Homo sapiens: one gene and its partners. The protein of the gene in region 1 interacts with the protein of each later gene in a biochemical or structural test. Each region holds a gene or a part of one and is shown on either strand. Other genes may lie near its edges. The genes, in order: DGKK, SHROOM4, RHPN2, SNTB2 and MAST3.

Evidence for each region.
Region 2: the proteins of DGKK (region 1) and SHROOM4 interact in a test that uses a peptide from one of them, tested with the Homo sapiens proteins (one large-scale study listed by IntAct).
Region 3: the proteins of DGKK (region 1) and RHPN2 interact in a test that uses a peptide from one of them, tested with the Homo sapiens proteins (one large-scale study listed by IntAct).
Region 4: the proteins of DGKK (region 1) and SNTB2 interact in a test that uses a peptide from one of them, tested with the Homo sapiens proteins (one large-scale study listed by IntAct).
Region 5: the proteins of DGKK (region 1) and MAST3 interact in a test that uses a peptide from one of them, tested with the Homo sapiens proteins (one large-scale study listed by IntAct).

The regions. Positions count from the first base shown.
Region 1 is NC_000023.11:50,379,743-50,384,030, forward strand, and holds part of DGKK (diacylglycerol kinase kappa), read right to left. Parts: intron 2,862-4,288; coding exon 2,754-2,861; intron 336-2,753; coding exon 239-335; intron 1-238. UniProt on the Homo sapiens protein: Diacylglycerol kinase that converts diacylglycerol/DAG into phosphatidic acid/phosphatidate/PA and regulates the respective levels of these two bioactive lipids.
Region 2 is NC_000023.11:50,632,234-50,636,521, forward strand, and holds part of SHROOM4 (protein Shroom4), read right to left. Parts: intron 3,436-4,288; coding exon 945-3,435; intron 1-944. UniProt on the Homo sapiens protein: Probable regulator of cytoskeletal architecture that plays an important role in development. May regulate cellular and cytoskeletal architecture by modulating the spatial distribution of myosin II.
Region 3 is NC_000019.10:33,005,382-33,009,669, forward strand, and holds part of RHPN2 (rhophilin-2), read right to left. Parts: intron 2,800-4,288; coding exon 2,633-2,799; intron 1-2,632. UniProt on the Homo sapiens protein: Binds specifically to GTP-Rho. May function in a Rho pathway to limit stress fiber formation and/or increase the turnover of F-actin structures in the absence of high levels of RhoA activity.
Region 4 is NC_000016.10:69,298,212-69,302,499, reverse strand, and holds part of SNTB2 (beta-2-syntrophin), read right to left. Parts: intron 2,911-4,288; coding exon 2,726-2,910; intron 1,669-2,725; coding exon 1,576-1,668; 3' UTR 1-1,575. UniProt on the Homo sapiens protein: Adapter protein that binds to and probably organizes the subcellular localization of a variety of membrane proteins. May link various receptors to the actin cytoskeleton and the dystrophin glycoprotein complex.
Region 5 is NC_000019.10:18,121,160-18,125,447, reverse strand, and holds part of MAST3 (microtubule-associated serine/threonine-protein kinase 3), read right to left. Parts: intron 3,764-4,288; coding exon 3,675-3,763; intron 3,599-3,674; coding exon of another isoform or gene 3,596-3,598; coding exon 3,526-3,595; intron 3,342-3,525; coding exon of another isoform or gene 3,321-3,341; intron 2,776-3,320; coding exon 2,697-2,775; intron 2,232-2,696; coding exon 2,074-2,231; intron 1,869-2,073; coding exon 1,793-1,868; intron 1,510-1,792; coding exon 1,300-1,509; intron 1,184-1,299; coding exon 1,082-1,183; intron 807-1,081; coding exon 674-806; intron 1-673.

The DNA of each region.
Region 1 (4,288 bases):
AAAGAGTAGCTCTCATTAGCTGGATCTTTAGATAGCAACATGAAGGAACATTTACAGAGATGGGGAAAGGGCTCTGTCTTCTCTTCCATTACATGGAAATCTATCTTCATGCCTTCCTCCCATGAGCTGTGAGGATCACAGAGTTAAAGCTCAGGAAGAATCAGCATGTACGGTATTCCCAAGGCCATGAGATTTCCTTTCTCCATACCCAGGAAAGACTACCCGCTTTTCCACTAACCTCCAAATGCACTCGTTCTTCCAGTTTCCTGTAAGAGCGCTGCAAAAGTTCTTTGGTTCCCAGAAGGCCATACCACATCTTGTTCTTAAGGCGGCTACTACATGGAGGTAAGCATTAAGAAAGCAGAGGGTGAATGATATATAGATAAATGGTGGAAAAAGACAGGAAGGAAAACCATCTTACTTCTCAAATGCCTTCTTACAGAGAGGAGTCATGCTAAATGGCAACTGGACAGCGGTTAATGTAACTGATATCCAATGCAAACACTTGAAGAAATGGGTTCCTGGGCCCCTTTGAAGCCTCAGTATCCTATCAATAAATAAATTTTCCATTTCTGCTTGCTACCAATATTGGTCCAGACTTGGAAGAAACAGGCTATATTCAGACATCAATGCTCATAAAAAGCTATGAGCGTAGCTGGCTGGTACACACCAGCTACCCTAGTTGTGCTACTCCAGGAGATTTCAGCTGCTTGGAATCAATTTCATTTGAAACACGTGACTCTTAGAGTGCAATTTTTTTTGAAGCAGCAACTTTTCTGGCAAAGTGAAGTACTTTTCCAAACACCAGATCCATATACTAAATGCCTAATTCAATGCCATGGAACAGATCTAAGCTTGTAGGGAGATTTTAGAGGAGGAGCCAGTGGAGAAAAATAGGAGACAGGAAAGGATATCAGGTGACTTGAGGTGGAGGTGGGGAGGACAGCGTCTTGTTGACTGTGGAATCTCTGATAGAAATAGGTGGGGCACTTACGATCACTAGAAAGGCTGGATATAGTTTACTTGGAGCTTGTAAAGTAGAGCCACAGAAATGAGCCATCATCACATGGAATGAGTTTTGAAATGTCAGAAGGCTAGCACAAAATTATTGAGACACTGTTTAAACCATTCATTCTCTGGGCACTTTGGTGTTCTCATCTACAAAAATAGGAGTTTAGGTATATGAAAATGTACAATACCTAGAACAAACCAATTCTGAAAAAAAGAATCAAGTGGGGGACTTTCATCTCCCAATTTCAAAAACTACTGTAAAGCTATAGTTATCAAGATAGTGTGGTACTTGCATAGGATAGACACATAAATAAATAGAACAGAAGTGAGAGTCCAGAAATAAACCCTTGCATTTGTGGTCAATTGATTTTTGACAAAGGTGCCAACACGATTCACTGGGGAAAGGATAGCTGTTTTGAAAAATGGCTCTAGATCCGGGCGCGGTGGCTCATGCCTATAATCCTATCGCTTTGGGAAGCTGAGGCGGGCGGATTGCCTGACCTCAGGAATTCGAGACCAGCCTGGGCAAAATGGTGAAACTCCGTCTCTACTAAATTACAAAAAATTAGTCAAGCATGGTATCATGCACCAGTAGTCCCAGCTACTTGGGAGGCTGAGGCAGGAGAATTACTTGAACCCAGGAGGCAGAGGTTGCAGTGAGCCGAGATCATGCCACTGCACTCCAGCCTAGGCGACAGAACAAGACTCCGTCTCCAAGAAAATAAAAAAAATAAACAAATAAATAAATTAAAATGGTGGTGAGATAATTAGATATCCACAGGCAAAAAGATAAACTTAGACTCTTACCTTAGACCCTCACACTATACGTAAAAATTAACTCAAAGTAGATCATACACTTAAATGTATTAATAAGAGCTAAAACAATACAAACTTTAGAAGAAAACTTAGGAGCAAATTTTTAAGATCTCAGATTAGGCAAAGATTTCTTACAGATGGCACCAAAAGCATGGTCCATAAAGAAAAAAACTGATCAATTGGACCGCCTTAGAATTCAATACTTTTGTATTTCAAAGATACCACTAAGAAAATGAAAAGACCAGCAAGAGACTGGGAGAAAATATTTGCAAATCACATATCTGACAAAGTTCCTGTTTCTCAGCCCAGGCCTGCTTTGAGAAAGAGGTTCTAGTGGTGGTGGCAAGGGTGGGGTGTTGTGGGGTGGGGTGTCACACTTTTTACTTATAGCTTCAATGTACCACAAGAACTCTGAGACTGACTTAGGCCTTGTCTGAAGTATGAAAGTGCGAGAAGGTGCCATGCAGGCCAACACTGGATAGGGTAAAATTAACGGGTTCAGGGGAACCAGGTTAGGAACACCAAAAACAAATAGAGGGATGTTTGATACTTTGCAACTTTGTCAAGTGAAAACAGATCTGAAGCCACTACTGAAACCTGGTTAAACTTTCACAGACAGAACAAAGGTGGGCGATTTGCTAAATTGAGTCAACATAATCTGTTGTCAGTAACAGTAACACAGGTAGCTGTGTTTACACAGAAATCCACAGGTCTGGATTTGAAGGCAGCTCAAGTTTAGGATGCCAGTGCAGTCATCCAAAATTTGGCACACACTGTCCCGCTAGACTAGTCTTGGGGCCAATGCATTTTACTTCCAGTGGGTCCCTTTCTTTCTGTTGCTTGTCTGAGAGGTAGAGAATGTAGGAATACGTATGTGTATTGTGATAGTGTGTTTGCATGTAGGGAAGGGAGTTTCTTTTCCTTACTTGTATTGCCCTGGGTGTTCATCTCTTCTGGTGTTGAAGTCCAGAGAAATTTTAGCATCCAGTCCAATTCCGAAGTAGTTGTTCATGACACATTTTTCTTTGAAGCGTCTGAAATTATTCAAAGAAGAGGACAGACATTGGTGCAGGAAAGAAGTGCCGCTATCAATTGGGCATGAAGATGAATCTGCATGATGGAAAACCAGTGAGGGAAGGCCCCCTCCACACTGGGCACTAACTATAACATTTTTGAGAGGCACATGTAGATATCCTTTTGTGTGAACAACTAGCTTATTAGCTGTAAGAGGGAGTGCCTCGCCAGTTGGGAAGCTTCAGTGGGATTGGAACTCATAATAAAGAAGCAACATTGATGATTTTAGTCATCTTTGGAGGCCTTATGTATGAGTGGCCCATATTTTCTTCATATGTAGTATTAAGGGAAATACTGTTTACTCCTATAAAGAACTTTTGAATATCCTAGACACAAACGTGCCATGACAGTTAAGTCTGCACAACTGCTCTCAGTGATGTCCGACATCAAAGGGGAAAATGACCACACATTTGGAAGGAAAGACTGATAAAAGAGGGTAGATATGTACATAACAAAAAAGCCAAATTATTTGTCAAGTCTCCTGTGTCCATCTAGGGTGTCAGCATCAAAACCAGTGGTGTGCCATAGCCAGTTGGCACCAGCTCATGTAAACTGATTATGCATATCTCTTTCCAACTCCAGATTCAATGGCATTATATCACTAACTTAAATAGGCCATGGTGGAAGGGTTTACACCATAAATGAATCAGGGCTTTCTCCCCCAAGAGAGGAGGTTGTTAAACACTTTGCCAGTGCACTATTGATCAAAATTCATTAGGTAGATCCATGAGAGCTCAGACATAAATTTGAGCCAATGGTGAAGTGTGGGGGCAAGAATGCGGGTTGGAGACAGGAATAAAAATTGTTTTCTTAAATAAATTATTTAAGAAAACATAAATAATTTCTAGCTGTGTCCTTTTGAGAAATTAAATGGATACAGTTTAGCTGTTTAATCTTAGATTACTTTTTTATTCATTACCATACTGACCTTACATCTCTCACATGAGATTTGCCTCCCTCAACCACAGTCCAGAGATTGGAGTTTCTCTAACTAATGTCCAAACTGATCTTCTTAATGGAACTCAGAATGAGTGAGTGTGGCAGAACTTGGCTGCTGCCGATATTCTAAAGAGGGAGAACTGGTGAGACAGATGTCCTTAGATTTGCTGCCTAGTCCCCTAGTGACCATTTTAGTTTTTAGTATCTTCAACCATTTACTGTTAAGGGCAACAGTGAAAAAAAGCAAGTCCTCTGTAATAACAACAACTAACATTTATTAATTATTTATAATAATAACAATAATAACTGCAAATGCATATAACACTTAATTATGGGTGCCAAGCACTACTCAGTGCAAGTACTTTTCATATATAAATGTAATAAATACAGCAAACCCATGATGCAAGTTCTACAATGGTCTTCATTTTACATATGAGAAAACTGAGGC
Region 2 (4,288 bases), 250 kb from region 1:
TAGAGTTCATAGTCTTTTGTGTAAGGCTTCTATCACCCTTGAAGTTCCTTTTTACCAAGGATATATATTGAGCAAATTCAGATACTAAGTCATTTCAAAAGTGTCTGTGTATGCAACAGCTGAACACAGGAATTAACTTCTGGTTTGAATGCACCGGCCAAAAGATGGCATCAGGGATGCCATGGGGAAGTAATCTGGCAGTGAGTAGGCAAGGACCTAGGGAGTCCTCCCAGAAGTAGCCTGGGGGATGGTGGTAGCTTGTGTTATGGTAATAGGTCATAACCGGGATATAAGAGCAGCCAGTTTAGACCTGGGTCTCCAACAGAGACAGGATGGAGAAAGGGGAAAGGATTTGTCTTTTTAAAAACCCAACAAGTCAGATCTCTGAAAGCAAAGCCTGGGGATATTTGCAAGTTTTGCATCTCTAAATACTTCTGAAGTAGAAAATGGGAGGCAATAAGTGATATTTTGTATCATGCACTGGGCCTAGAACTCCATAGACACAATCTGATTTGATTCTCACAAGTGATCCATGAGGCGGCCATGATATTCCTCCATTTTAGAGATGAGGTAGTGAGACTCTTCTTAATACTGGCTATTTTATGACAGAAAAATTATTTTTTCCCTTTAGAATTACATACTTCAAATTTGTGTGGTTGAATGACTTGCTTTGGGTCACTCAGATATCAATTTTATAGTCAGGATATAAATCTCAGTTGTGCCCATTTTATGAAGCAAAAGTTACTTTTATCTAACCCTAAAGATGAGACAACTGCAATTTTGGTGGCTGAGTATCTTTTTCAAGGTTACTAAGCTAACAACTACTGAAGCCAGTGCTGTACAGTTTCAAGGAATTATAATTGTTATATTTTTAAATAATTTACGTAGCTTTCCCCTCTCAAAGACAATAATGAAGGTTACCCACCCAAGAACCAAGTCCTCACCTGCACTGTCAGCTTCCTGGGTTTCCAAGTGTTGCCAGGTGCCAAGCTGCTGTCCTCGAGGGCACTGTGCTGAGGATTATGATAGCAAACTGAACACCGAATGCATTGGTGGTGGTGGCACCGGCAGTTGTAGCAATTTGGCATCATATTTCTCTTTAGCAAGGCAGGGCAGATTTCCCCAGAACAATAAATGCAAGGATCATGGACTAGAGCTCCTTGAACACTGCAGGAGTAAGAGCAGGTCCTGTGGTAATCAAAATCACCACAGTGTAGTGGCTTACAACACATGGAATTTTCTAGACCTTTGCTTGCAAAACATTCTGAGTAAGTGGGAGTTTCTGACTGAAGGGGTGACATGGAATGATATGATTGGTCTGTGGCATGATATGGTTGGTCTGCGGAATGATATGATTGGTCCATGGGATGGCGCCTCAATTCCCTACAGCTGGAGCTCATTGGCTGGAAGTTTTGGTCTATAGGTTTTGGTCTCTGGGTAAAAGTCTTGTTGCTATGAGTGGTTAAACCTGGCAAATGAGATGTAGATAAGGATTTGCTACTCTCTTCAAAGAACTTTCTTCTGTCTGCAAAAGGCAAGAGGATGGCATCCTCCCCAGCTTGAGCAGTAGAAGCCTTCAATTCCTTGTTGTCACCTGGGTTGGAAGGGCCTTCCATGGCTGCTGCCACAAGTGGCTGTGAATTATGCTCTGGAGACCATCTCCAATGACCTCCACGGACTCCACAGTGAGCATGTGCTTTCTCAGGGTCTGAGGAGGATGGGTCAGGTGCTTTCCACCAGGTGTTCAGGCCCAAAGAGGACTGGCCAGGCCTCTGGCCAGGGCTTATTCGTCCCTCTAAGCCTGTCCTAGATTCATGGCTCTCAGGGGCTTGGCTGAGGCACTCGGAAGACCTAGCTCTGAGCATCATGCTTTTGTTGAAGAGCTTGTCTCTGGGGCTGGGAGGTTTTTTACATGAAGATAGAAGAGATGTGTTAGAGGCAGTGAGTGGAGGACTTTCTGGGGGCTCCTGGGTCTCTTCCACTGGCTCCTTAGTGTCACACAGCTGTGACAAGGGACCCTTGCTTTTCTGGAGCTGGGCCTTCCTCCTCTGAATTTCATTACGCAGATTGGTAGCAAAACGCTCACTCTTCCGCCGGTTTTGGATCGAGCGGCCCCGGGTCCCTCCACTTCGCCTACCACCCATCCGGCTGCACTCCTTGGGCTCGCTGTCCCCTTCTTCACCTGCCTCTGTGCCACTAGCTGCTTTAGTGGTTGAAGAACAGTCCGTGGCTTGTTGAACAAGGGAGCCAGAGGCAGAGGGTTGCTGGTTGGCCAATTCACTGGCTGCTCTGCTTGTTCTGTTTGGGTCCAGGAAACCTTTTTCTGAGGGGTGTCCATCAGCCTCTCCATGTGGGGGACTGCTTTGGCTCTGGTGTCCCAAAACTAAAGACCTGTCATCCACTTGTCTGGTCTTTCTTTCTTTGCTGGACTGGTCATGGGTTCCTCCTGTAGGGGGGCATGGACTTTTCTTCCCTTTGTGGCTGCTGTGCAAAGGGGACAGAGTCCACTGGTGCCCATCCTGTACGGGTGGGAGCTCCATCCCTTTGCTGCCCCTGGTATCAAGGTGCACATGCTGCAGGTGGGATGCCAGCAGCTGTTCAGGGGCACTATGGCGATGCCCTGTGGGTCCTATGAGATGTGGAGGTCTGCCAAAAGAAGCCTTAGCTAGCTCTGCAGAAGCCTCATTGAGTGGGTTGGAATCCACGCTGGAAGCTCTGTCACAGGCTTTTGGGGATCCAACAGCTTTGGTTGAGGCCTGCATCAGTAGATGCTCAGAGCCCTGTTGGCTGGATTCAGGAGGCTGACTGAACTCACAGTTCTGATGGCCCTCACTTGTCACTTGGTCATGCCCACTGAGGCAACAGAACCTATTAGGGTTCCTTGCGGGTAGCACAGGCTCTAAGCTCAGTTTCTCCTTCTGTGGCAAGGGGACCACAGGCTCAGATGCCCTGCGCTGCTCTCCATTGAGGAGTTGGGCTCTGGAGGCCTGAAGGCTGTCCCGCCTCACTGGAGGTTGTGGTGGGCCCCTGACTGCTTTGGCGGGCCCTGACTGGTATCCCTCCTGTGGACGGGATGACATCTGAGAGCTGGGGGTCAGGTGGCCCCCATTGGTGCGCCGACTACCTCCTGAGGTCTCAGCCACATTAGGCCGGCCACTGGGGGCCTTAGTTGGCCCTGGGCCTTGCATGATGCAGTCTGTAGAGGCTGGCTCCTCTGGCCTGAGGGAAAGGGCACAGTCAGAAGCATTTGAGCTGGCCGAGAAGGAGCTGTAGGCTGAGTCACGCTGGTTAGGGTACATGTTCTGGTCAATAGGCAACAGATGGCTCTCATAGGTGGCTTGGCCTGGTTGCTCCAGGCTCTCCATGCTGCCAATGGAGCTGCTTTTCTCGGTGCTGCAATGCCGGGAGAGTGGACACCACTGCACACACACGTCACTGTAAGACACAGGGCATACTGGTTAGTTAGCGAAGTCATGGCCAGCCCTACTATAGGAGAGGGCAGGCCAGCCCAGAGGTACCCATGCCACAAAAGAGAGGAGGGTAGGCAAAAAAAAAAAAGGGGGAAGAAAGGGAAACAGGGAAGAAGATGGACATTGGGGTGCCTCAGGGGCTTAGTAAAATGGGACACAAGATGATATATGGAAAAAAGATGGGGAAACACCCCAAAGACTAAAAGTGGGAGAGCTCTATGGGGGTTATCCTCTATTTCCCTGACATTAGCAAGTCTGAAATTGCTTCTAGGCTGTCCCTGTCCCTAGGGAGTCAGCATGTGGCTCCCTGCCAAAAGAGACAATCACAGAATATCAGCATTAGAGAGGGGCCCTAAAGGGCTGATTCAGTTTTAGCCGGACCATTTTGTAAATAAATCAGTGATTCTCAAACTTGAGCATGTGCGTCAGAATCACATGCAGGGCTTGTTGAAACACGGGTCACTTGTCCTCATCCTAGAGCTTTAGGTCTCGGTGAATCCTGAGAATTTGTACTTCCAACAACTTCCCAGGTGCTGCTGGGGCTGCTTGCTCATCCAGCAATCACACTTTTGAGAACCACTGGTGTAAAGCAAGCCCAGCAAAGGGAAGTGATTTTGAGATGGTGATTTACTCAAGAACACCCAGCTCTAACTACTGGCACAGACAGGGCTGTAATTCAGGTGTTCCCCTATTCTTTTCTTGATAATAGCAATCCTGACTATTTACTGAGGACCTACAATGTGCCGGACACTTTACAAGGTTTCATTTCAAGCTGAAGAGGACAGATCTTTTTTTTTCTTTTTCAACCTTTATTTTAG
Region 3 (4,288 bases), on another chromosome or scaffold:
CAGCCTGGGCGACAGAGTGAGATTCTGTCTCAAAAAAAAAAAAAAAAAAAAAAAAATCTCAATCCGTCTGCTCCAATGGAAATTTTCATGCTGCAGCCTTCCTCTGACTTCTTTGTAGTTTAGAAAATTAACTGTCCAAAGCGCTAACTGACAATCAATCTGGAACTGAAATAGAATCTCTCATATGAATCCCATCCAACTGGTTCCTCTGGTTTTGTTGCTGAGCAAAAAAAAAAAAAAAAAAGCCCTGCCCTGCGGAGGGATGGCACCTGCTGTTTTGAGCTGCGAGCTCCATGGGGGTTCCCTCACACTCCCCACTGTTCTCCTACTTGCTTCATTTCGTCTATAGTTTGTCTCCATTGATATAATCTCAGAGACAGGACACAGAGTGCCTGCCTAAGATTCCTCAGAAAGATGAGTCCAGAAAAAAGATTTACAGCAAAAGAAATCAACTCATACTTGGAATCTTAGCATATCGCTTCATCCCGATAGACCAATCTTTTATTTTTTTAATTAATTAATTATTTTTTGGGACAGGGTCTTGCTCTGTCGCCCAAGCTGGAGTGCAATGGCGCGATCTTGGCTTACCACAACCTCGGCTGATCCTTCTGTCTCAGCCTCCCAAGTAGCTGAGACTACAGGCATGCACCACCAGGCCCAGCTAACTTTTGTACTTTTTGTAGAGATGGAGTTTCGCCTTGTTGCCCAGACTGATCTCAAATTCCTGGGCTCCAGCAATCCACCCACCTCAGCCTCCTAAAGTGCTGGGATTACAGGCATGAGCCACCATGCCCAGCCTATTTCATTAATTTAAAAAAAAAAAATTCTTTTTAGGGATGGAGTCTTACTCTGTCACCCAGGCTAGAGTACAGTGGTGCAATCATAGCTCACTGCAGCCTCAAACTCCTGGGCTTAAGTGATCTTCCCGTCTTAGCCACTGGAGTAGCTGGAACTACGGGCATACACCACCACGCCTGGCTAATTTTTAAATATTTTGTAGAGATGGGGTCCTCCTGTGTGGCCCAGGCTGGTAGGACCAATCATTATAACATCAGAAATTTCACGATGAGTCAAAGTGGCAAAGCTATGGTTCTTCACAAGCTTGCAGGGCAAAGTGATATCAAACAATGATCCACACGGGTGGAAGGGGATCACACCCCAAAGCAGAATGTCGATGATCAGCCCAGAAGGCAACACGCTATAGAGCTAGCGTGGGGAACACACTGTGGTCTACACTGTGCCCTGCTCTTGCATCCATCCCCACGTGGAGTCTGACCCAGACACAGCCCTGCTATGGGGGAGCAAGGCAGAACCCGCAGGCACAGGTGAGCCAAGCCAGGCTCACCCACAGCGCTGGGTCTGTTGACCCCAGTCCTCTATAGGTGTAAGCACTAGGCTGCTTTTCTCCTCAACACCGCACCTCATTCTCATACTAAGATTACCTGAGGTCAGGAGTTTGAGACCAGCCTGGCCAACATGGCAAAACCTCATCTCTACTAAAAATACAAAAATTAGCCAGGCATGGTGGCAGGCGCCTGTAATCCCAGCTACTTGGGAGGCTGAGGCAGAAGAATTACTTGAACCCAGTAGGCAGACGTCGTAGTGAGCAGAGATTGTGCCACTGCACTCCAGCCTGGGTGACAAGAGCAAGACTCTATCTCAAAATAAACAAATAAATAAAATAAAATAACAAAAGACAGTTCCCAGAAGAAGGGAACTGAGCTATGAGACATCCTTTGAATGCATCACTTGACAAAGGGTTGAGAACACCCACCTCATGCTGGAGAAGTTGGCAGAATGCAGGTGATATAAAGGCATGGAGGGGCAGGGTGCGGTGGCTCATGCCTGTAATCCCAGCATTCTGGGAGGCTGAGGCAGGCGGAACACCTGAGGTCAGGAGTTCGAGACCAGCCTGGCCAGCATGGCGAAACCCCATTTCTACTAAAAATACAAAAATTAGCCAGGTGTGGTGGCGGGTGCCTGTAATCCCAGCTACTCAGGAGGCTGAGGCAGGAGAATTGCTTGAAACCAGGAGGTGGAGGTTGCAGTGAGCCGAGACCATGCCACTGCGCTCCAGCCTGTGCAACAAGAGCAAAACTCCATCTCATAAATAAATAAATAAATAAATAAATAAATAAATAAATAAAGGCACGGAGAGTAATACGCACTGATAAGGTACACCTAATACAAGAAAAAGAAGCCTACAGTTTCACTATTTGGGAAAAGTTATTCTGCTCTTCATGACAGTGTTGAAAGAAACAGTTATGCACTGCCATCCCAGGGGCCACTTGTCTGGAAAAGATCGTCAGCCACAGGATTCACCATGTACATCAGCCATCCCAGACTGAGGTCTGAACCACCGAGCAAGTTTTTTTTTTTTTTTTTGAGATGCAGTCTGGCCTCGATCTCCTGACCTTGTGATCCACCCGCTTTGGCCTCCCGAAGTGCTGGGATTACAGGCGTGAGCCACCGCGCCCGGCCGGAGCAAGTTTCTTAATGGGAAGTTACACCAGAGCTGGAGACTGGTCTGGCCCTTGCGAGGGATGACCTGTAGATTCTCTTCAGTGGGGGGTCCCCTGGTGCCACCGGGTGGGGCCAAGGCTCCGTCTGGTCAGCCCTGGAGGAGACATACCTGCGGCTCTCTGAAAGGCATCTATGGCACTCTCCAGCCCAGCCTGCGTCTGCCGATCACACCGGGTCCCAATCTGGGTGTAGAGGGCCCCAGTGTTGAACAGGACACTGGCCTTCTCCAGCAGCAGGTTCTGCTGGCTGACCGGAACCCCGGTGAGAGAGTCATACCTATGTGAAAGAAATGCATTCCGAGAATACAGATTACTTGGCTAGTTAATGCTACAAGTGGAAAAAATTCTTTTTTTTTTTTTTTTTAAGAGTCAATATCTCACTCTGTTGCCCAGGCTGGAGTGCAGTGGTGTGATCATAGCTTACTGCAGCCTTCAACTTTAGGGCTCAGTTGATCCTCCCACCTCAGCCTCATGAGAATAGCTGGCATTACTGGTGCATGCCACCATACCTGCCTTTTTTTTTTTTTTTAATTTTTGTAGAGATGGGGTCTATGTTACCCAAACTGCTGTCAAACTCCTGGGTTGGCTGGGTGCGGTGGCTCACGCCTGTAATGCCAGCACTTTGGGAGGCCGAGGCAGGTGGATCACCTGAGGTCAGGAGTTTGAGACCAGCGTGGCCAACATGGTGAAACCCAGTCTCCACCAAAAATACAAAAATTAGCCAGGCATGGTGGCGGGCGCCTGTAATCTCAGCTACTCAGGAGGCTGAGGCGGAAGAATCACTTGAACCCGAGAGGCGGAGGTTGCAGTGAGCTGAGATCGCACCACTGTGCTCCAGCCTGGGCGACAACAACAACAACAAACTCATTTCTTCAGTAAAAGTCAAGAATGCATGTGCACTGAGGCTTTTGTTTCCAAGCAAGATGACAGGACTAATCACACTGACCGCCACAGCCACACACAAAAATATCTGACGGGGTAACTGGATAAACACACCATGGGACATCCAGACAATGGAATATTACTCAGCACTAAAAATGGAGAAATGAACCAGCAAGCCATGAAAAGATGCAGAGGAAACATTACTAAGTGAAAGAGCCAACCTGAACATTGCTACCTACTGTATACGCTGTGTGATTCCAACATTCTGAAAAGCCAAAACCCTGGAGACAGAAGAAAGATCAGGGGTTGCCAGGACTTAGGGGGAGGGAGGGAGGGGGAGCACAAAGGATTTTTCCAGTAGTGAAACTCTTCTGTATGACACTGCAAAGGTGGATCACTGTCATTCTATGTTGGCCAAAAGCCACAGAATACACAAGTGCAAGAATGAACCCTAATGGAAACTATGGACTCTGGGTGATAATGATGTGTCAGGTAAGTTCTTCAATTATAAAAAAAAAAAATGGGCTGGGAGCGGTGGCTCATGCCAGTAATCCCAGCACTTTGGGAGGCCAAGGCGGTATGGCTTCTCCTAAATGAAATATGGCAATTACTAACCCCTCATAATTCTTTCTGAAATCTAAAAACTCAGGATTTGTTTTAATTTGTTTTACTTTTTATTTTTTCAGACAAAGTCTCACTCTGTTGCCTAGGCTGGAGTGCGGTGGCATGATCATGACTCACTGCAGCCTCAACCTCCTGGGCTTAAGAGATCCTCCCATCTGAGCCTCCCAAGTAGGTGGGACTACAGGCATGCACCACCCATGACCGGCAAATTTTCTCTAATTGTTTTGTAGAGATAGGGTCTCACTGTGTTGCCTAGACTG
Region 4 (4,288 bases), on another chromosome or scaffold:
AAGTGACACCCTCCTCCACCCTCCACAGCGCTCACATTCTTCCGTGGCACTCTTGATCAATCAAGCAAACAAGAACTTTCCCTAGACCTTTCTTCAGAGAGCATAAAGAACATCCAAGTCAATATTACCTATTCTTTGAGATCCAGGGACTGTGCTAATTTTGACATTTTATATGATATTATACCATTTTAAATGTTTGCAGATATATACCACCTTCAAAATTAGGAAAAACAAGCTGAGTTCATTTTCTAACACTACAAAATCAGCATTCTTGCTGCTACTGTGTCCTAATGATATCTGGCAATCTTAACCAAAAGCAGGTAGCTGTTCCACGGTCTCATCACCCTGCTCACTGTAGGGTGTGCTGTGAAGCCAATAGTAAGTCTCGAATTAGCAGTTGCTTGTCCATGCCACTGCTGCCACAAAGGGCCAGGCCACAGCCAGGATGCTGCATCCTGTTGTTTTTGGGCAGCCCAAAACAATTCAACATGACGTTTGTGCGGAATTGCTGGCTTCACCCACCAAGTCTACTCCTCAAGCAGGCTGGCTCTTTAGGATTTATCTTGTTCAAACAGATCTGCCTACTAGAAGAGATGCCATTAAGGAAACCCACCTCAATGACTATTCCTCAAAACTAGGATAGGTGATCTCCTGGAAATGGCAGTGATTTCCAGTTATTCAAATAGTGACTAATAAAGCTCCACTAACCCTAACCAAAGGCACATTTGGTAAGCAATAAAAAAAATGGCTTAACCTAGGAAGAGGATTTTCATTTAAAATAAATCTTATCCCCTGGCTCCTAACAAAAATAAAATTGGAAAAACCTAAACCAAGCAAAACTTTTCTTTAAAAGCAGTGGCTTCCAACTTGCTTTTCAACTCAGTCACCACTAGAAAGGAAGTAGAAGGCAAGGCAAATCAAATTTACAAGTTCTAAGTCCTAGAGACAGTGGCAAAGCTTGGGATAAGGTGGGAAGTGATGGCCAGGCTGAGATAGAGGGAGATCCAGGGCAAATGGAACAACCCTTTGGTGATACAATTCAAGGACTTCCTATGGTGGAAGGAGCTAGTGAGGACAGTAAATTCCAAGACATACGACCTATCTGGAATGCTCAGGAAGCAACAGGCTGCTGCAAGCTAGCACCTGGGAAGGGACAATTGTTCTGAACAAGAGATCAAGGCTAAGCACAACACAAATCCTACAGGGAGAAGAAAAAGAAAACAATGCTTGGGTATTTGATTATGTCTAAAAATGAAAACAATGAAAAAAAAAGAAAACAATGAGCCATTCTTTTTAGCAGTAGAAATAAACCTAATTACTCATAAACCATATTTTGAAATGAGAATAAATCAACAGCTTCATTTTGGAGCCTTTTAGAGTGCTAGAATATCTGGCCAAGGTAGACTGTGAAAGGTAGGCTCTTCTTTAAACACGGTTATGGTTCAGCAGTTATTTGCAGGTCCTTGGGAAGGCACTGTGCTGAAGGAGAGCAAAGAGTTTCTTTTTGTGCTTTTTTTTTTTTGAGGTGGAAATATTTCTTGTGACAGTCAAGGCTCTTTTCTGATTTTTTGTTGCTCATACAAGCAGTCCCATACGAGTGACTTTGGCCGATAAAAACGTGTGCAACACAAATACAATCGGCTTCGGACAAGAGTGCAGGTCCATGGTCTGTGGAGAAAGGACACTAAGCATCACTACCTCACTACCATATACAGACAACTTAATAAACGAAGATGCAAAATAAATTTAAGGTAGGTAAAGAATGTGCCAGAGCTATGGAAACTCTTAGGAACTTAAAGCCACAGGCAAAAGTGCACTATGGAGTAAGGTTATTCCATGTCATAATACTGGTGTGAGGTTTCACATCCCCAATTAGGAGACAACTGGTGGTGTACTGGGTTTCACCATGCCTGGTAGGAAGAACTAAATAGTAGAGGATTTAAAATCTAAGGCCAGGCACGGTGGCTCACGCCCATAATCCCAGCACTTTGGGAGGCTGAGGCGGGCAGATCATGAGGTCAGGAGATTGGGACCATCCTGGCTAACACGGTGAAACCCCATCTCTACTAAAAATACGAAAAATTAGCCAGGCATGGTGGCACGTGCATGTAATCTCAGCTACTCGGGAGGCTGAGGCAGCAGAATTGCTTGAACCAGGGAGGCAGAGGTTGCAGTGAGCTGAGATGGTGCCACTGCACTCCAGCCTGGGCGACAAAGCGAGACTCCGTCTCAAAAAAGAAAAAAAAAAGAAAAATGACGGCAACAAAAACCAACACCCAATGCCATCTTGAAAACTGAAGAAGAGCAGATACAGTGGCTCACACCTGTAATCTCAACACCTTGGGAGGCCAAGATGGGAAGATCACTTGAAGCCAGGAGTTCAAGACCATCCTGGGCAGCAAAGCGAGACCTCATCTCTATAAAGAATATAAAAAATTGGCCAGGCATGGTGGCACACACCTATAGTCCAGTCCCAGTTACTCAGGAGGCTGAGGTGGGAGGATCACTTGAGCCCAGAAGGTATAGGCTGCAGGAAGCTATGATTGCACCACTACACTCCAGCCTGGGTGACAGAGACCCCATCTTTAAAAAAATTTTTTTTAATTTAAAATTTCATGGTTCTAAATGGAATGTCAGTCCATGACTTTGTATATAAGGGGTAAGAAGTAATGAGAAGGAAAGAGAACATCTATTAGATAAACATGTGTTTCAGAAACACTCTTACCAGTTCTCCCTCGGGACCACCAAAATCCAAGTATAGATTTCGGATGCCATCATCAGCAGACATCTTCAGCCTTTCAAAGGGGTAGCGGTACAATATGCTGCTGGAGCCTCCATTTTCCCTTGAGATGGTGAACCCATTTTCATAGTGAATAGTAAGCCTCACCTCTTGGCCATTTAACATGCAGCCTGTTGAAGAAAAGCAAAAAACATTAGTTGTAAAGTTGCTATGTCAGTTATCAAGTGAAAAGGGAATCTTCTGACTTCAAAATAGGAAAAATATTTTCTTGAGAATGTGTGATACCTAACCTGTATGGAAACTTCTAAAGTGTGTTTTGTGCTAGGCGTGGTGGCTCACGCCTGTAATCCCAGCACTTTGGGAGGCCGAGGCAGGCGGATCGCAAAGTCAGGGGTTTGAGACCAGCCTGACCAACATGGTGAAACCCCGTCTCTACTAAAAATATAAAAATTAGCTGGGTGTGGTGGCGGGTGCCTGTAATCCCAGCTACTCAGGAGGCTGAGGCAGGAGAATTGCTTGCACCCGGGAGGCGGACGTTGCAGTGAGCCAAGATTGCACCACTGCACTCCACCCTGGGCGACAGAGCAAGACTGTCTCAAAAAAAAAAAAAAAAGAAGTGTGTTTTGTTTTGGTCACTGAGATGAGGCAGAAATGACCATAACACTCCTTGACATCTGTTCGATTTAATTCCTCGAGTACCCACTGAACACTCATACTGGCAAGTGTGTGTAGGCTGTGCAAGGCACTAGAGAAGTAAGAGGCACAGTCCCTGCTCTCAAGGACTTTGTAAACTCATTGGCATAGACAGGAAATCCCCAATTGTGTAAGGCAGAATGTACAGAACATGAGCAAACACCAAAGTGAATGAGGCCAAAGTCAAGAAAAGGTTTCCTGGAGGAGATGGGCCTTCAGATAGGCCCTAAAGAATTGGTAATACTGGCCGGGTACGGTGGCTCACACCTGTAATCCCAGCACTTTGGGAGGTCGAGGTGGGCGGATCACTTGAGGTCAGGAGTTAGAGACTAGCCTGGCCAACATGGCGAAACCCCGTCTCTACTAAAAATACAAAAATTAGCCAGCCATGGTGGCACATGCCTGTAATCCCAGCTACTTGGGAGGCTGAGGCAGGATAACTGCTTGCACCTGGGAGGCAGAGGTTGCAGTGAGATGAAATCACGCCACTGCACTCCAGCCTGGGTGACAAGAGCGAGACACTGTCTCAAAAAAAAAAAAAAAAAAAAAAAAAAGAATTGGTAAAACTGGACAGGCAGGGAGGAAGAGGCAGAAGGACTGAACTGGGCAAGAAGGACCAACCAAAGGAGCAAAGGCAGAGAGGCCTTTCAGGAGCCGTGACATGGTTTGGTTGGCATTTGGGATGAAGATAAAGATTATGTTCATCAAAGTTAAAGGCTATACTCAGCAAAAGTCACAGTCAACGCTATCAAAGATACAATTCAAAGGACACCTCTGAATTGACAGGATACAAACAATTTTGGTCATCAAGACTGGCAAATGCCCCAGGTGTGGTGGGTCATGCTTACAATCCCA
Region 5 (4,288 bases), on another chromosome or scaffold:
TTTTGACCGTCTTCTTACCTACGGGTTGTCCTGTTTGACTCCAAGTTCACTTTCTGGGCCACAGTAAAGGCCACAGAAATTGGTAAAGTCATTTGTGAATTTGCAGGACAAAGGGAAGGCCACTGCTAACACTGGTCCCCAGGCTTCCTGACCATCTTAACGTGGCATTTGAGGACACTGAGGCCCCTGGGCCCCAAAAGATCAGAGGGTCTCAGCATAATTCCCACAGGTGACCTAAGAGCAAGGCCACAGAGAGACAAAGAACAGTGCGGTGGTTCTGGAATCGGATGGGCCTGGGTTTGAATCCTGGCTTCATCTGCCCTTTCTTTTTTTGTTTTTTTGAGACAGGGTCTCGCTCTGTCGCCCAGGTTGGAGTGCAGTGGCGCGATCTCAGCTCACTGCAACCTCCATCTCCTGAGTTCAAGCAATTCTTGTGCCTCAGCCTCCTGAGTAGCTGGGATTACAGGCATGCGCCACCACACTTAGCTAATTTTTGTATTTTTAGTAGGGGGGGGGTTTCCACCATGTTGGCCAGGCTGGTCTCGAACTCCTGGCCTCAAGTGATCTGCCCGCCTTAGCTTCCCAAAGTGCTGGTATTAAAGGTGTGAGCCACCGTGCCTGGCCTCCATCCGGCCTTTCCCAGCCTTGGTTTCCTCTTCCCATCCCGGCTTACCCTCCAGGGGGTCCTTGGCCAGGCCCAGCTGCCCAATGATGTACTGTGGAAGGTCAGTCTTAATGCCTTGGCCCTCCCGCGCATGGCCCTCAGCCGCCTCCAGCAGGTGGTAAAATTCCTCAGGGTCAAACTCCTAGGGGCACAGGAGGGCTGGTCACCCAGGGCTTGGTTCCACCTGCAGGCCTCTGCACATGCTGTTCCCTCTGCCTGGAGCACCCTTCCCAGCTCACCCACTGGGTCTCCACTCCCGCTGCCTCCTTAGGGAAGCCCACGCTAGCCCAATAGCACCCTGTGTTCCTCTCAAAGCCCTACACGATGGGAACTGTCACCTGTATCTTGGCAGGACTGTTGTGGTCCCAATCTCAGTTCTGCCTGGACCCCAAGCTGGCCGTAGAAAGAGAAACTTACCAGACACTCCAGCAGCCGAGCTGGCCGTGAGATGATGATCAGCAGTTTCCGGACAAGCTGGACGATGAAGCTGACCTCCTCACTGTCCGAACGCTCATGGGCCTGGGGGAGGTGGGTCGTGGCATCACCCACAGGTCCTCAGCACCGTCTGGCCTGGGGACCCCCCTCACTCCACGTCCCACTGCATGCAAAACCTCAACATGCGAAAAACCACGCACATCCTGCAGAAGCCGCTCCAGCTTCTCCTGCATCTCTAGGAAGTAGCGGGAGGTGACGAGGTTCTCGCCAGACTTGGCCAAGCAGTCTCGGGCCAGCTCGACGATCTGGTGGTGGATGAAGCCCAAGACGCCATCAGCCAGCGCCAGCCGGGCGCCGGGCGCGTAGGCCGTCAGGAACTCCTGCAGACGGCCCTCCATCTGTGCTGTGGCCTGGGTGGGGCGAGACGGGGCGACCTGGTCAGAGGGCGGGGCTGGAGTGACACACGCAGAATGGGGCAGGAGAGGCATGGTTGGGGAGAGAGGAGATGGGGCAATGGGGCGATCGGGTGGGAGGGCTGGTGCAGGAGGAACGACATCTTTCAACGGAAGGGGAAGGAAAGACAGAAATGAACAGACTGGCAAAGGGGACATAGCCAGGAAGACAGAGTTCCATGGAGGGACAGCAATGTGGAAAGAAGTGCAGGGGCTGGTCCAGCCGCCAGGCGCTGCCCACCTTGGGGAACCTCTCCCGGTACACGTGATTCATCATGACAATCTCATTGTCGAAGGTCCCCGTTGCACGGCCCGGGCTGAAAGGAAGACAGCTGGCTTGTGATATGGGACCTGAGACCAACCCCAGGGGAGGATGTTGGGGGATCTGAGCCAGGGTTGAGGGACAAGAATCAGAGGCTAGGCTCAGGCAGGGTCAGGGCTGGGGTGAAGGAGGAGCCACAACTTGGGCCTCCACACCAGCCCAGGGAGGGGCCGGGGCTGGGGCCAGAGGTCGCGGCCCACCTGAGACTGCGAGAGCGGGGTCGGAGGCGGGGTGACCGGCCGCCTTCCTCATCAAGCACATTCTCTGAGCTGCGGAAGTGCTTGGACAGGAAGTGCAGCTCGTCCGGCGTCGGCTGGAAGGGAAGCTGGTGGAGACGTTCCCGGGAGGATGAGCTTGACTGGTAGAGAGTGGTGGGGATCAGAGCCATGAGTTCACCGTCAGTGCTGTGGCCAGGAACCCAGCACCACCCCTCAAGGCCCAGGCTGCCTGCTGGCCATCAGAAGGTAACATCCTTTCTCCTGCCTAGCTCCTATGCATCCCTCAAAACCCTAGCTCTGATGCCCTCTCCTCCAGGAAGTCCTCTCTGCCTGTACCCCTGGGCAGCCCCAAGTCCCCCTCTGGTCAGGCCCTGACCCCATAGGCTGAGGATATCTGTATCTCCCCAACCAGGGACTATTTTGGGGCCAAGGCTGGGTCTTCTCAGGGGACCCTGCATTTCCCAGAATGGGGCGTGCATGGAGGAAGTAACTAGTATGTTTGCTGACTGCACAACTATCCAACACCTTGAAAAAAACACACAAAGATGTGTCCCCCCACAACCCGGCATCTGCCTGTCCACCTGCCAAGGTGGGGCTATGGGTACCGAGAGGGTGGAGCTGGGTGTGTTGGTTCCATAGCCGGAAGATGGGAGAGACGCGAGGGACCATCTTCTGCCGTCTGCCCTGGAGAGGGGAACAAGAACAGATGGAAGGAAGGCCTGGCCCCTGTGGTTTGTGGGGACTAAGAACAGACACTGTGGCCAGCATATTCTGGCCCTGTTGTAGGAAGGATCTCCTGAAAATAACCAAGAACAGAGACACAGGCTGACCAAGTCCACTGCATGCTCTCTCTCTTTAGGTACCTCTTCCAGGAAGCCCCCCCGTGAGTCCAGCTGCCACTGTGTCCCCTGTCAAAGCTTCAACCTCTGAGCTGTAGCTTCTGGGGCACACATTGACCACCCCCCACCAAACGGAGGACTCCCCAGGGGCTCAGGGCCAGCTGCCCATTTGCGACCATGCCCTCAGCCCGCAGCACAGAGCATACACACAGTGGGTGCTTAATGAATGTTGTTGTATGAATAAATAAATGAAATGCAAGCGTCTGGCACATGACAGGTGCTCAATCAGCTCTTGTTAAGTGAATGAATGAATGATTTCTTTAGTGAGTTAATGATTCTTAGGGCTATATCCCCCCATGACCCCCCACCCCCTGGGCTGGTTGAAATTACCTGTCCATGCGTGGGATGTGGCTGCAAGATGGCATGCATTTGCCGGGAATGGGAGCCAGAGGGGGAGACCACCACCAGACGGGCCAGGGGAGGGGAAAAGGTGAATGAAATGAATGAGGAGCCAGGTCTAGCCACCGAGCACGTGCCCCTGCCCAACCCTTGCCCGTGGTGCCCGCACTGTCTCCCAAAGCCGGCAATCACTCACCTCCGGGCAAAGGGGAAATTTAGGGCAGAGGCAGCCGAGAAATTCCGAGGACTATCCAAGGGGCTGCTGCCTGCTGAGGAGGAGGCGGGGAAACTGAGTCAGCGGGGCAGAGGCAGGACACAGCACCCGCTGGCTGCTCCCACACTCACCCGTTGGGACCGACAATGGCGACAGGGGCCGGGAGAGGGTCGGGGAGGGCGTTCCTACCACCAAGCTCTTGCGGTTCCCGCTGCGGCAGCTGTGGGGGGAAAAGGGGACAGGGTAGGTGGCTGCCCAGGGCCCCGCGCTAAGCCACCTGCCCAGCCTAAATCACACTCGCAGCCCGTTCTGGAGAAGGATGGGATGTTGGACATGGCCACTCCCACTCTGCCCCCAGCTGGGTTCCCCCATGGCCCTTAGCCAGGTCTTCAAGGCCCAGGAGGGAATCACCCCTCAACTAACATTCCTTATTATTGACACTACTGCTGGCCAGGCATGGTGGCTCACGCCAGTAACCCCAGTGCTTTGGAAGGCCAAGGTGGGAGGATCCTCTGAAGCCAGGAGTTCAAGACCAGCCTGGGCAACATAGCAAGACCCCGTCTCTATACAAAATTTAAAAATTAGCTGGGTGTGGTGGTGCACGCCTGTAGTCCCAGCTACTCAGAAGGCTGAGGCAAGAGGATCGCTTGAGCCTCAGGAGGTCAAGGCTGCCGTGAGCCATGATGGTGCCACAGCACTCCAGCCTAGGTGACAGCACAAGGCCCTCTCTCTTAAAAAAACAAAA